Linked DNA regions of Homo sapiens: region 1 is linked to region 2. The links come from fine-mapping of genetic effects on plasma protein levels. A gene starts in region 2. The other region holds a variant in brackets. All regions are shown on one strand. Distances are from middle to middle. Region 1 overlaps LY96 (lymphocyte antigen 96). Region 2 holds the start of LY96 (lymphocyte antigen 96).

Region 1 (5,381 bases), 13 kb before region 2:
AATGTGGCCTCACACTTTATACCAACATTATAGTATATTCTATGGAAACATAATTGCGCTATAAAAATATGACTGAATAATTATTTTGTTAATGAATTAATATAATTTGTTATATAAATGTCATATTTAGTGAGAAATTATAAAACACTTGTGATGGCCATTGAGGTATGTCCCTCAAATTTCCCTTCAAAAGCAGCTGCTGTGAGAAGAGTAGCTGGCAGACAGCCTGCAGCTGCCATACCTTCACATCTATCTCAGCACTCAGCCAGAGGCCACCCTCTCGTAGGCTGCTCCTATAATGATCCAGCACTGCAAGGACCCTAGAGCCAGGCTACTCCCGCCTGTCATGGGTCTCTTACAACAGGCATTCTGCTCTGGGGCTTCCTATTTGGCCCAGCCCAAGAGTGTCTCAGGGATGCATTCTGGTCTGAGGATTATCCTACTTAATTCTCCTTCCTCCCTACTCTCTTTTCAAAGGTATCAGACCTGCACCCCAATCTGAATTTTCTCCTAGCCTACTCTGGCTTCCTCTCCCCTTTACTGTTCACAAGCGTTTCCTCCAAGAAATCTCTAGCCTAATTCCTTCTTAGTGTCTGCTTTTCAGAGAACTCTAAATGATTTCGTACTGTCTTATTATCTTGGCCTGGAAAGATACAACCTGTTTCCTGCGAGTAAGGGCAAGGGATTCACTTGAAAGTGAGATTATTCATTATGTAAATCATCCTTTATGCCAATTGTGTAGGGGTAAAACCTGCCAACAGACCAGAAAACAGAACCTAGGAAAAAAGAAGAAACTGTAGAGCCTTAGCCAAGCAAAACTTTAGATTATTTATTTTATCTTTGGCCAGGAAAGTGAAGGAAATAGAGTTAATCATCCTTTGCTCTGTGCTGTCACTAAGCCCTGTTGCTGTCACTTCACTTATACCATACTATCTGCAGTTCTGTCTCTCCTATTGCACTGATGGATTCCTGAAGATCAGGAGAATGTCTTATTGGCTGGGCACGGTGGCTCGCGCCTGTAATCCCAGCACTTTGGGAGGCCTAGGCGGGTGGATCACTTGAGGTTAGGAGTTCAAGACCAGCCTGGTCAGCATGGTGAAACCCCTTCTCTACTAAAAATACAAAAATTAGCCAGGCATGGTGGTGGGTGCCTATAATCCCAGCTACCCGGGAGGCTGAGGCAGGAGAATGGATTGAACCCGGGAGGCAGAGGCTGCAGTGAGCCGACGAGATCATGCCACTGTACTCCAGCCTGGGCAACAGACAGAGACTCCATCTCAAAAGAAAAAAAGAGAGAGAGAGAGAATATCTTATCAATGAATTCACAGTGCCTAGCATGATACTTACAATTTACTAAGCATCTTTTTAGTGAATAAATGAATGCAGATACAGAGTGTCAAAAAAACAGGTTGAACAACTAGAATCATGAAAATTAAAACACAAGTTTGTTGTCTATCATTCCTGGGTTCTCAGTTTTGGGGATTTTGTTGTTGTTGTTTTTCATTTTTCTGGTAAGCCAGAGAACTAAAATCGGGGGAAAATGTTTAAGCTTATTCATGTAAAACTACTCTGTAAAGTATTAATCTAAAACAAGCTCCAAATCTAAACTAGGATGTAAATTATGTGATAATGATGATGATAAAGATTAAAACTAAAGTTTTCTGGGATTCCAGAGCTTACAGGCAATAAACAATGTTTGGTAACTGGTAGGAGAGGAAAAAGTTTTGTGTCTGCACAGAGACTGAGATACAGCCCCATGCTATCACCCCACCTGCGTTAGTTTTTTCTAAGCTGATAACAAGCAAAGTCATAGAGAGGAAAACCAAGACACAACACAAAGCAAAACAAAACACATGGCCTTCTGTCATCCCATTATTACTGTATTTTTCTCTAGAAAGACCATCTTTAAAAAATATTGAAGTCCTGGCTTGCTGACACACAGATCTTTGACTAATGGAAACCCAATATTACTTATAGCTAATGATTGATGAAGGATATACCTGTAAGATTGTTGGACAGCTGAAGTTATTCCCATTTCTACCCACATGTTCTTGTGTAATCCTCTCCCAGTAGTATGGGCTAGCCTAGTGACTTGCTTCTAACCAATAGAACACAGCAAAGATGATGGAGTGTTACTTCCATGATTATGCTATATAAGATTGTGACTTGCCTAGTTAGCTGACTGTCCCCCTCGCTGGCTTTGAAAAAGCAAGCAGCCATACTGAAAATGCCCATGTGGTAAGGAACTGACGGGTGGCCAACAGCCAGCAAGGGACTGAATACTAACAACTGAATACTGACAACAGCTACGTGAGCTTAGAAGTATATATTTCCTAGTTGAGCCTCAGAAGGGACTCCAGCCTGGCAAACACCTTGATTGTAGCCTTATGGGAGACCTTGAAGCAGACACAGGTAAGCTATGCCCAGAATACTGATCAACAAAGATGATGAGATAATAAATGTGTGCTGTGTTAAGCCACAAAGATCGTGGTAATTTGTTACGTAGCAATAGATAACGAATACAAGTATATTTGAAACACAATCATTTATCACTGATATTTCTTAACTCCTTTGATTGGTCTATAAAAGCAAAAATTTGAACTTACTTGGAATGTAGAAAATGTGCAATAATCCTTTGGATC[T/C]TTTCAATTCTATACAGGGGTTAACATTAATTGAAATTGGGTATTGCATTTTATCTAAAAGCAATAAAGATAATGTCAATAAATTACTACAAATCATCTCCATTAAGTATAGTATTCTGAATATCAGCCTTTTAAGATGAATCTTGCATTAAAATTATAAAATAAGAAAAATTGATGATGATTGAAAATATCTCCCCAGAAGAATGACATCAGCAATGTGGCAGAATCAGAAGCCCTGAACTCTTCTTGCCTCCACTAACACAACAATTTACAGAAATATTCCCTTTATGAAAAATCAAACTAATTGAAAGACTCCTGCATGCAAGGAGAACACAAAACCAGATTCAACAAAGCCAGTAGGGAGACTTGGGACACTGTCTAATCAGAGATTATTACCCTGGTGTGGTGTCATACAATCAGGAAGAGACCCCCCCAACCAGCTCCTAGCTCCACCCATGGGAGGAGAGAAGTTGTTTCACATGTCCAGAACACCAACTTTTTCACGAGGGCTCCCCAGAGGACTGGCTTCTGTCTTGCCAGTCTTGGAGCTCTGATGAGTCTGGCACAGTCTACCACCCAGGGGAGAATAAAGGCAGTGGCTTGGGCAGATAGGCATCATTAATCCTCCCCTCTGCTCAGCACAGAGTGAGAAGATGAAAAATCTTAGCTCTCAGCTTTCTCCCGGGGAGGGAAAGAGTTAATCCATGCATCCAGCATCCCAATTTCTCTGGGGATCCCCAGAAAACTTATATCTGTCTCATCAGTCCTAGAGTTCTGACAGGTCTGGCATAGTCTAGCTGCCTGGCAGGGGAATGGAGACAGCAGCTTGGGCTGGTAGATGCCACAGTTCCCTTCACCACCCCATCTCTGGCTCAGTATGGAATAGGTGGACAAAAAAACACAGCTGCCTGCATCTCCCTGAAGTGAGAAAGAGTTGGTAGAGGACCCCAGAATCTCTAACCAGGCTAATAGTGAAGTGGGAAATTAAAGAAAGAAAGAAAAAGAAAATTAAAAAGAGAAAGAAATAAGCTTTCCTGTATTAGGCTGACTCATCTCAAAGGCAGTAGCAGGCAAGGCCCAGACCCAGGAAAAGTCTTGATAAACACTATCTGAGAAGATAGGACACAAAGAAATGTGCTCTGGAGACTCTTCCAGCACTCCCTCAACATAGGGAGAGGAAAAACAAATTTTCCTTTCTTTTATGATATGAGTTTACAGATTCTTGTTCTCTGTAACTAGGAACTTCAAGTATTCTGTTTTACCTAAGAAGTACAGCGAAGGTCGTGAGAAGCCTGAGCAGGCCTGAACTACAGCCGTCTGGGCACCATGGTGAAGGTTATGAGATAAACCAGTGCAAGGCTCTTTTGAGCAAAACCTAGATAACAGACATCTGGGTTGCATAGCAATGTTCATGTATAGTCCTGAGTTATGAACCTGTCACAATTGGATTAATTGTTCTGCCTCTATATCCTTGCTTTTGTGCCACTGTAAGCCTGCTTCAAGCTAGCCCACCCCCTTTTAGAAGTGTGTATAAAAGTCAAGTGCTGTCCTTGTTCAGGGCCCAGTTTTTGGATGTTAAGTCTGCTGGGTCTGAGTGCATTCAATAAAGATCCTCTTGCTTTCCCCCGAGGTCTCTCTCGTCCTCCTGATTCCCACAACAATAGGTGTGGGTATGTTCCTGTGTGAGGCCAATCTGTGAAGACTGAAAAAGATGTCTGCTTTGTAATGTGTAGATGCCAAACAGAGAGACAAGGAAAATGAAAGATCAGGCAAAGATGTTTCAAACAAAGGAGCAAGACAAATCTTCCTCACTTACACTAAGGAAATGAAGTTATATGATTTACCTGACAGACAATTTAAAATACCTCCATAAAGATGCTCACTGAGGTCAAGAGAACAATACATGAATGCAGTGAGAATTTCAACAAGAAGAAAGAAAACATTTTAAAGGACCACACAGAAATCATGGAGCTGAAGGCTGGGCACGGTGACTCATGCCTGTAATCCCAGCACTCTGGGAGGCCGAGGCGGGCAGATCACCTGAGGTCAGGAGTTCTAGAACAGCCTGGCCAACATGGTGAAACCCCACCTCTATGAAAAAAATACAAAAATTAGCTGGGCGTGGTGGCATGTGCCTGTAATCCTAGCTACTTGGGAGGCTGAGGCTGGAGAATCACTTGAATCCAGGAGGCGGAGGTTGCAGTGAGCCAAGATTGTGCCACTACACTCCAGCCTGGGCAACAGAACAAGACTCTGTCTCAAAAAAAAAAAAAAAAGAAATAAATAAATAAATCATGGAGCTGAGGAACACAATAACTGAACTAAAAAGTTCACTGGAGGGGTTCAGCAGCAGACTAGACCAAGTAGAGAAAGGATCAGTGAACTCAGAGAGAGATCACTGGAAAAGAATTCAATCAGAAGAGCAAAAGGAAAAAATAATTTAAAAGAGTGAAGAAAACTTAAGGTAATGGTGAGACACCACCAACCAGAACCATATATGCATTATGAGAGTTCCAGAAGTGGAAGAAAAAAAGAACAGACTACAGAAAGTTTATTCAAAGAAATAATGGCTATAATCCCAGCTACTCAGGAGGCTGAGGCATGAGAATCAGTTGAGCCTGGGAAGCAGAGGTTGCAGTGAGCTGAGATCACGCCACTGCACTCCAGCCTGGATAAAAGAGCAAGACTCTGTCTCAAAAAGAAAGAAAAGGAAAGAAAGAGAGAGAGAGAGAGAGAGAG
Region 2 (5,381 bases):
TCACAGTGAATCAGAGGTTGTTGTCACCAACACCCTCACAATGGTACCTAGAGGAATCAGTGCTTCCCACAGGTGATGCATTTTTGGCTGGGCAGGATGGATTCTCTCAGGCCGGGAAGGCAGTCATATGGCAGTGGGGATGGCAACAAGCAACATCTTGCTGTAGATGTGTATTCCAGTGGCTTGCCCACAGTCCCTTTGTCAGTGGGGCAGCAGGAAAGGACCACAGGGTTTCTCAGAGAGAAGGAAGGAAGATCCTCCTTCATAAAGTCAAATCAAATTAGCCAGGCATGGTGGTGCATATCTGTAATCTCAGCTATTTAGGAGGCTGAGGCAAAAGAATCGCTTGAACCCAGGAGGCAGAGGTTGCAGTGAGCTGAGATCGTACTACTGCACTCCAGCCTAGATGACAGAATGAGACTGTCTCAAAGTAAAAAAAAAAACTAGAAAGTCAAATCAAAAGATACACCAACGGTGATGGTTTCACAGCAATGTGCATATACTTAATACAATTGAGCTAAACACTCAAAAATGATTAAAATGTGAAATTTTAGGCCAGGTGCAGTGGCTCATATCTGTAATCCCAGCACTTTGGGAGGCCAAGGTGGGAGAATCACTTGAGCCCAGGAGTTCCAGACCAGCCTGGGCAATATAGCAAGACTCCATCTCTACAAAAAAATTAATAATTAGGCCAGCTGCGGTGGCTCACGCCTGTAATCCCAACACTTTGGGAGGCCAAGGTGGGCGGATCACCTGAGGTCAGGAGTTGGAGGCCAGCCTGGTCAACATGGCAAAACCCTGTCTCTACTAAAAATACAAAAATTAGCTGGGTGTGGTGGTGGGCACCTATAATCCCAGCTACTCGGGAGGCTGAGGCAGGAGAATCACTTGAACCCAGGAGGCGGTCGTTGCAGTGAGCCAAGATCATGCCATTGCACTCCAGCCTGGGCAACAAGAGTGAAACTCAAAAAAAATTATTTAATTAATAATTAGACAAGTGTGGTGGCATGTGCCTGTAGTCCCAGCTACTTGGAAGGCTGAGCTGGGAGGATGGCTTGAGCCAGGGAGGTGGAGGTTGCAGTGAGTGGAGATCATGCCACTCACTCCAGCCTGCACAACAGAGCAAAACCCTGTCTCAAAAATAAATGATAAAATAAGATAAAATGTGAAATGTTTTAAAAAGACAAATTGAGTTATTGTTAAGAAAAGATTGAAAGCTAAATAATAATACAAAATGTTACATCCATAAAAACCATATAAAGAGTGGCATAAACCGGGCAAGGTGGCACACGCCTGTAATCCCAGCACTTTGGGAGGCCGGGGTGGGCAGATCACAAGATCAGGACATTGAGACCATCCTGGTCAACATGATGAAACCCTGTCTCTACTAAAATACAAAAAAAAAAAAAATTAGCCGGGTGTGGTGGCGCACACCTGTAGTCCCAGCTACTCAGGAGGCTGAGGCATGGGAATCGTTTGAACTTGGGAGGCAGAGGTTGCAGTGAGCCGAAATCGCGCCACTGCACTCCAGCCTGGCAACAGAGCAAAACTCTGTCACACACACACACACACACACACACACACACACACACACAGTGGCATAATTAGCACATGGTACAAAAGAGCCAAAGGAGGAGAGGGAAGTGGGGGCCAAGTAGAGTAGGAGCCTTGCTGGAAGAGGGGAATGCAAAAGGATCTTGCAGCATGGAGAGATTTTAGACATACGTTTGGAGGGAATTCAGTGCAACCCACCAGGAGAAGGGCCATGGTGTGTGACTGGCCACACTCCTAAGTCTCCTCCTCACATGTGGCAATTATCCCAATTTCCCGAAAGTCACTTTATATTAGCATTTGGCAGAGCATGTTTCTCAAGAGAGTTAACATACACTCCAGACTAAAACACAAACAAACAAACAACAAATGAAATTGAAAATGTGGTTAAACAGGTGCCTTTATTGCAGAACTTCTCAGAACCCAAAGTACATCTGTAAATCTCTCCCAGATGATTAGGTCATAGATCCTATTTTCCCAAAAGAATCTCAAAGAACTGGTATTTTGGGAAGCACCACTTTAAACCTCCCAGCTATTGCTAGTGGGTGGAAAAGGGCAGCCAACCCATGGTAAGCAGCACGGTGGAAAGTACCGAACCAAAACAGCTGTCAGGCCTGACACTGTGCCTTCAGATCCCAGGACACTTGCTAATGAGCAGCTGGGGCAGGGGACAGTGACACAGCCAGTGAATAGTATTAGGGTATGGCTGACTCCAAAAAAAAATTAAGAGTATTATTGTCTCTATGTGACCCTATGCTAAAAAACTTCACCTCACAACACCCTTATCAAGTAGACTATAAAATCACTTTCACTTCAGTGCTAAAAAGGCTGGAGTACTTTGCTTAAGGTCACACAGCTAGTGACAGAACCAGGCTTTCATCCAGTGAGGGGGATGATTCCAAGAGCACTCAAGAGTCACAGCTTAGAGCAGAAATCAACTCCAGGAAGCAGCTGGGACTGCTCTACCATCTCAAGAAGAAGAACTAGTAAGTGTCAAGGCTGAGGTGAAAGCTCAGAAGCAGATGGTTTTATTAAAAATGGGCAGAACCAAAAACTGGGCTCAGGGTAGAGAAAGATGACGCAGGGAACAGAAGCACTTGGAGGTCAAGCACAACACAGTTTAGAGACTCACAAGCTCTGTGAGTGGTCGAGAACATTCTCATGGGGCAGCTGCCAGCTATTGCTTTTCCTGCTGGCAGCGTCCGCCACAGCAGCTGGAACACACTGATGTTTCGTGTGTTCCAGCCACAACAGTGTACGGTTCTCGTGAAAACTTACCCTCAAAATAGTTGATGCTACAATTATTTGTTTTGCGGTTTTACTTACCACAGTAGGTGTATGAAATACTTGCATCGGATGAGTTGCAGACCCAATACTGCTTCTGAGCTTCAGTAAATATGGAAGAAAACAGGGTGGAAAAAAACAGAAATGGTAACATGATTCAATATCTCCAAAGCTTTACAAATGCAAAGAGGATCAGTAACTAATCATCAGACTCTTCCTTTTCAGTAAGCAGAAAAGATTTAACTTAGTCATCAGTCACATGATTTCTGAGTTCCTATCCAACTGTTTCCTCTTTTTTTGTGTGTGTGTGCTCAACATTTGAGCACTTCCTGTAAAGGAAGAGAGAAAAATGATTTAGAATGTACTCTTCAAACACTTACTGTAAATGAGAGTGATCAAAGACTTAAAAATAAAACAAGACACTTTGGCCAGGCACGGTGGCTCATGCCTGTAATCTCAGTATTTTGGGAGGCTGAGGCAGGTGGATCACTTGAGGTCAGGAGTTCAAGACCAGCCTGGCTGACATGATGAAACACATCTCTACTAAAAATACAAAAATTAGCCAGGTGTGGTAGTGCATGCCTGTAATCCCAGCTATTCAGGAGGCTGAGGCAGGAGCTTCACTTTATCTGGGAGGCAGAGGTTGCAGTGAGCCAAGATGGCACCACTGCTCTCCAGCCTGGGCAACAGAGCAAGACTCCATTTCAAAAAAATTTTTTAAATGAAAAATAAAATAAAATAAACAAGACAATTCCCAGTCAACTGTAACAAAACCAGTCCCTAGGTCCCCCTGAAAGTCTCAACAGACAGGCACTCCTTTTCCCTCTGCATTATTCTTCTCTCCTACAGCTCTGTATAACAGCAGTCCCCAACATTTTTGGCCTCAGGGATCAGTTTCATGGAAGACAATTTTTCCACGGACTGAGGGGATGGGGAGGGATGGTTTCAGGGTGAAACTGTTCCACCTCAGAACATCAGGCATTAGATTCTTATAGGGAGCACGCAACCTAGATCCCTCGCTTGTATACTTCATAACAAGGTTCCTGCTCCCATGGGAATCTAATGCTGCTGCTGGTCTGACAGGAGCTGGAGCTCAGGTGGTAATGCTCGCTCACCTGCTGTTAACCTCCAGCTGTGCAGCCCACTTCCTAACAAGCCACAACCAGATTCCTAACAGGCCATGGACTGGTACTGGTCCACGGCCCCCAGAGGATGGGGCCTCCTGCTTTATAAAACAAATTCTCAGCTGGGCACGGTGGCTCATGCCTGTCATCCCAGCATTTTGGGATACCAAGGTGGGTGGATCACTTGAGGTCAGGAGTTCAAGACCAGCCTGGCCAACATGGTGAAATTCCGTCTCTACTAAAAATATAAAAATTAGCCAGGCATGGTGGCACACACCTGTAATCCCAGCTACTCGGGAGGCTGAGGCAGGAGAATCGCTTGAACCCAGGAGGCAGAGGTTGCAGTGAGCCAAGATTGGGCCACTACACTCCAGCCTGGGCAACAGAGTGAGACTCGGTCTCAAAAACAAACAAACAGGCCAGGCGCAGTGGCTCACCTCTGTAAATCCCAGCACTTTGGGAGGTCAAGGTGGGCGGATCACCTGAGGTCAGGAGTTTGAAACCAGCTTGACCGACATAGTGAAACCCTGTCTCTACTAAAAATACAAAAATTAGCTAGGCATGGTGGCAAGTGCCTGTAGTCCCAGCTACTCAGGAGGCTGAGGCAAGAGAATTGCTTGAACCGAGGAGGTGGAGTTTGCAGTGAGCCAAGATTATGTCACTGCACTCCAGCCTGGGAGACAGAGCGAGACTCCATCTCAAAAAACAACAATAACAACAACAAATCAAATTATCATGGCCCAGAGAGCTGCACCTATAGATCTGAAGTAAACAGTCTCATGGAAACTATTTCTTTTCAGCAGCAGGTTTAGTTACAGGACAGAACAGGGCCAGATAAGACCCCAAACAGGGGACACTAGCTGTAATTCTGTGCTGTGGGCAGGGACTCCACCAGTCTTAATAATGTATTCACCTACAACAAGCTAGAGCTCAAGAGAACATTTTGAGTCCTAATAATGAAATGTCATCCTTTTGTTATGACATGTATTTCATTTCAAAACTCTCACTCCATTTTAGAAAGACAGCTATTCCTTTAGATATCTTGCTACTTGAAATCCTTTACAGGATATAGCTTAGGGTTAGCAGCCAAAAATGGCATGGAGTTTTGGCCTAAAAATCTGCACACTTAAGAAGAAAATAATCATACGTTGGTAAAAATATTTTACAACAGAAGTGTGATTTTTTCCATTTTTTTAGAGATAAAGTCTCACTGTGTTGCCCATGCTGGGGTGCAATGGCTATTCTTAGGTGTGATTATAACACACTGCAGCCTCAAATTCCTGGGCTCAGCTGGGACCACAGGTTTGAGCCGTGGCTCTTGGCCCTGCCATTTTCAAAAAGGCAAAAGTCCAAGGGAGGAGGGGGAAATGGGGAGTTGTTCAATGGGCATAGAGTCTCAAGCTGACAAGATGAAAGAGTTCT

The links. PIP is the posterior inclusion probability: the model's chance that the variant is causal. The UK Biobank Pharma Proteomics Project read protein levels with antibody pairs (Olink). The fine-mapping took linkage between variants from a reference panel, not from the people measured, so its PIPs are less certain.
Region 1: its variant is fine-mapped to the plasma level of the LY96 protein (UK Biobank, PIP 0.99). The variant lies in the coding sequence of LY96. If it changes the protein, the assay may bind it differently, which can mimic a change of level.

What each region holds. Positions count from the first base shown.
Region 1 is chr8:74,002,111-74,007,491 of GRCh38, reverse strand. LY96 (lymphocyte antigen 96) reads right to left here. Exons shown (of 5, transcript NM_015364.5): 2 at 2,607-2,696. Among named protein-coding and RNA genes, the nearest start is that of LY96, 13 kb to the right of the region's middle. The variant T/C (reference allele first, on the strand shown) is at 2,643.
Region 2 is chr8:73,989,051-73,994,431 of GRCh38, reverse strand. LY96 (lymphocyte antigen 96) reads right to left here and starts at 3,040. Exons shown (of 5, transcript NM_015364.5): 1 at 2,878-3,040. The coding sequence starts at 2,989. RefSeq lists enhancers at 2,259-2,328, 2,699-2,798.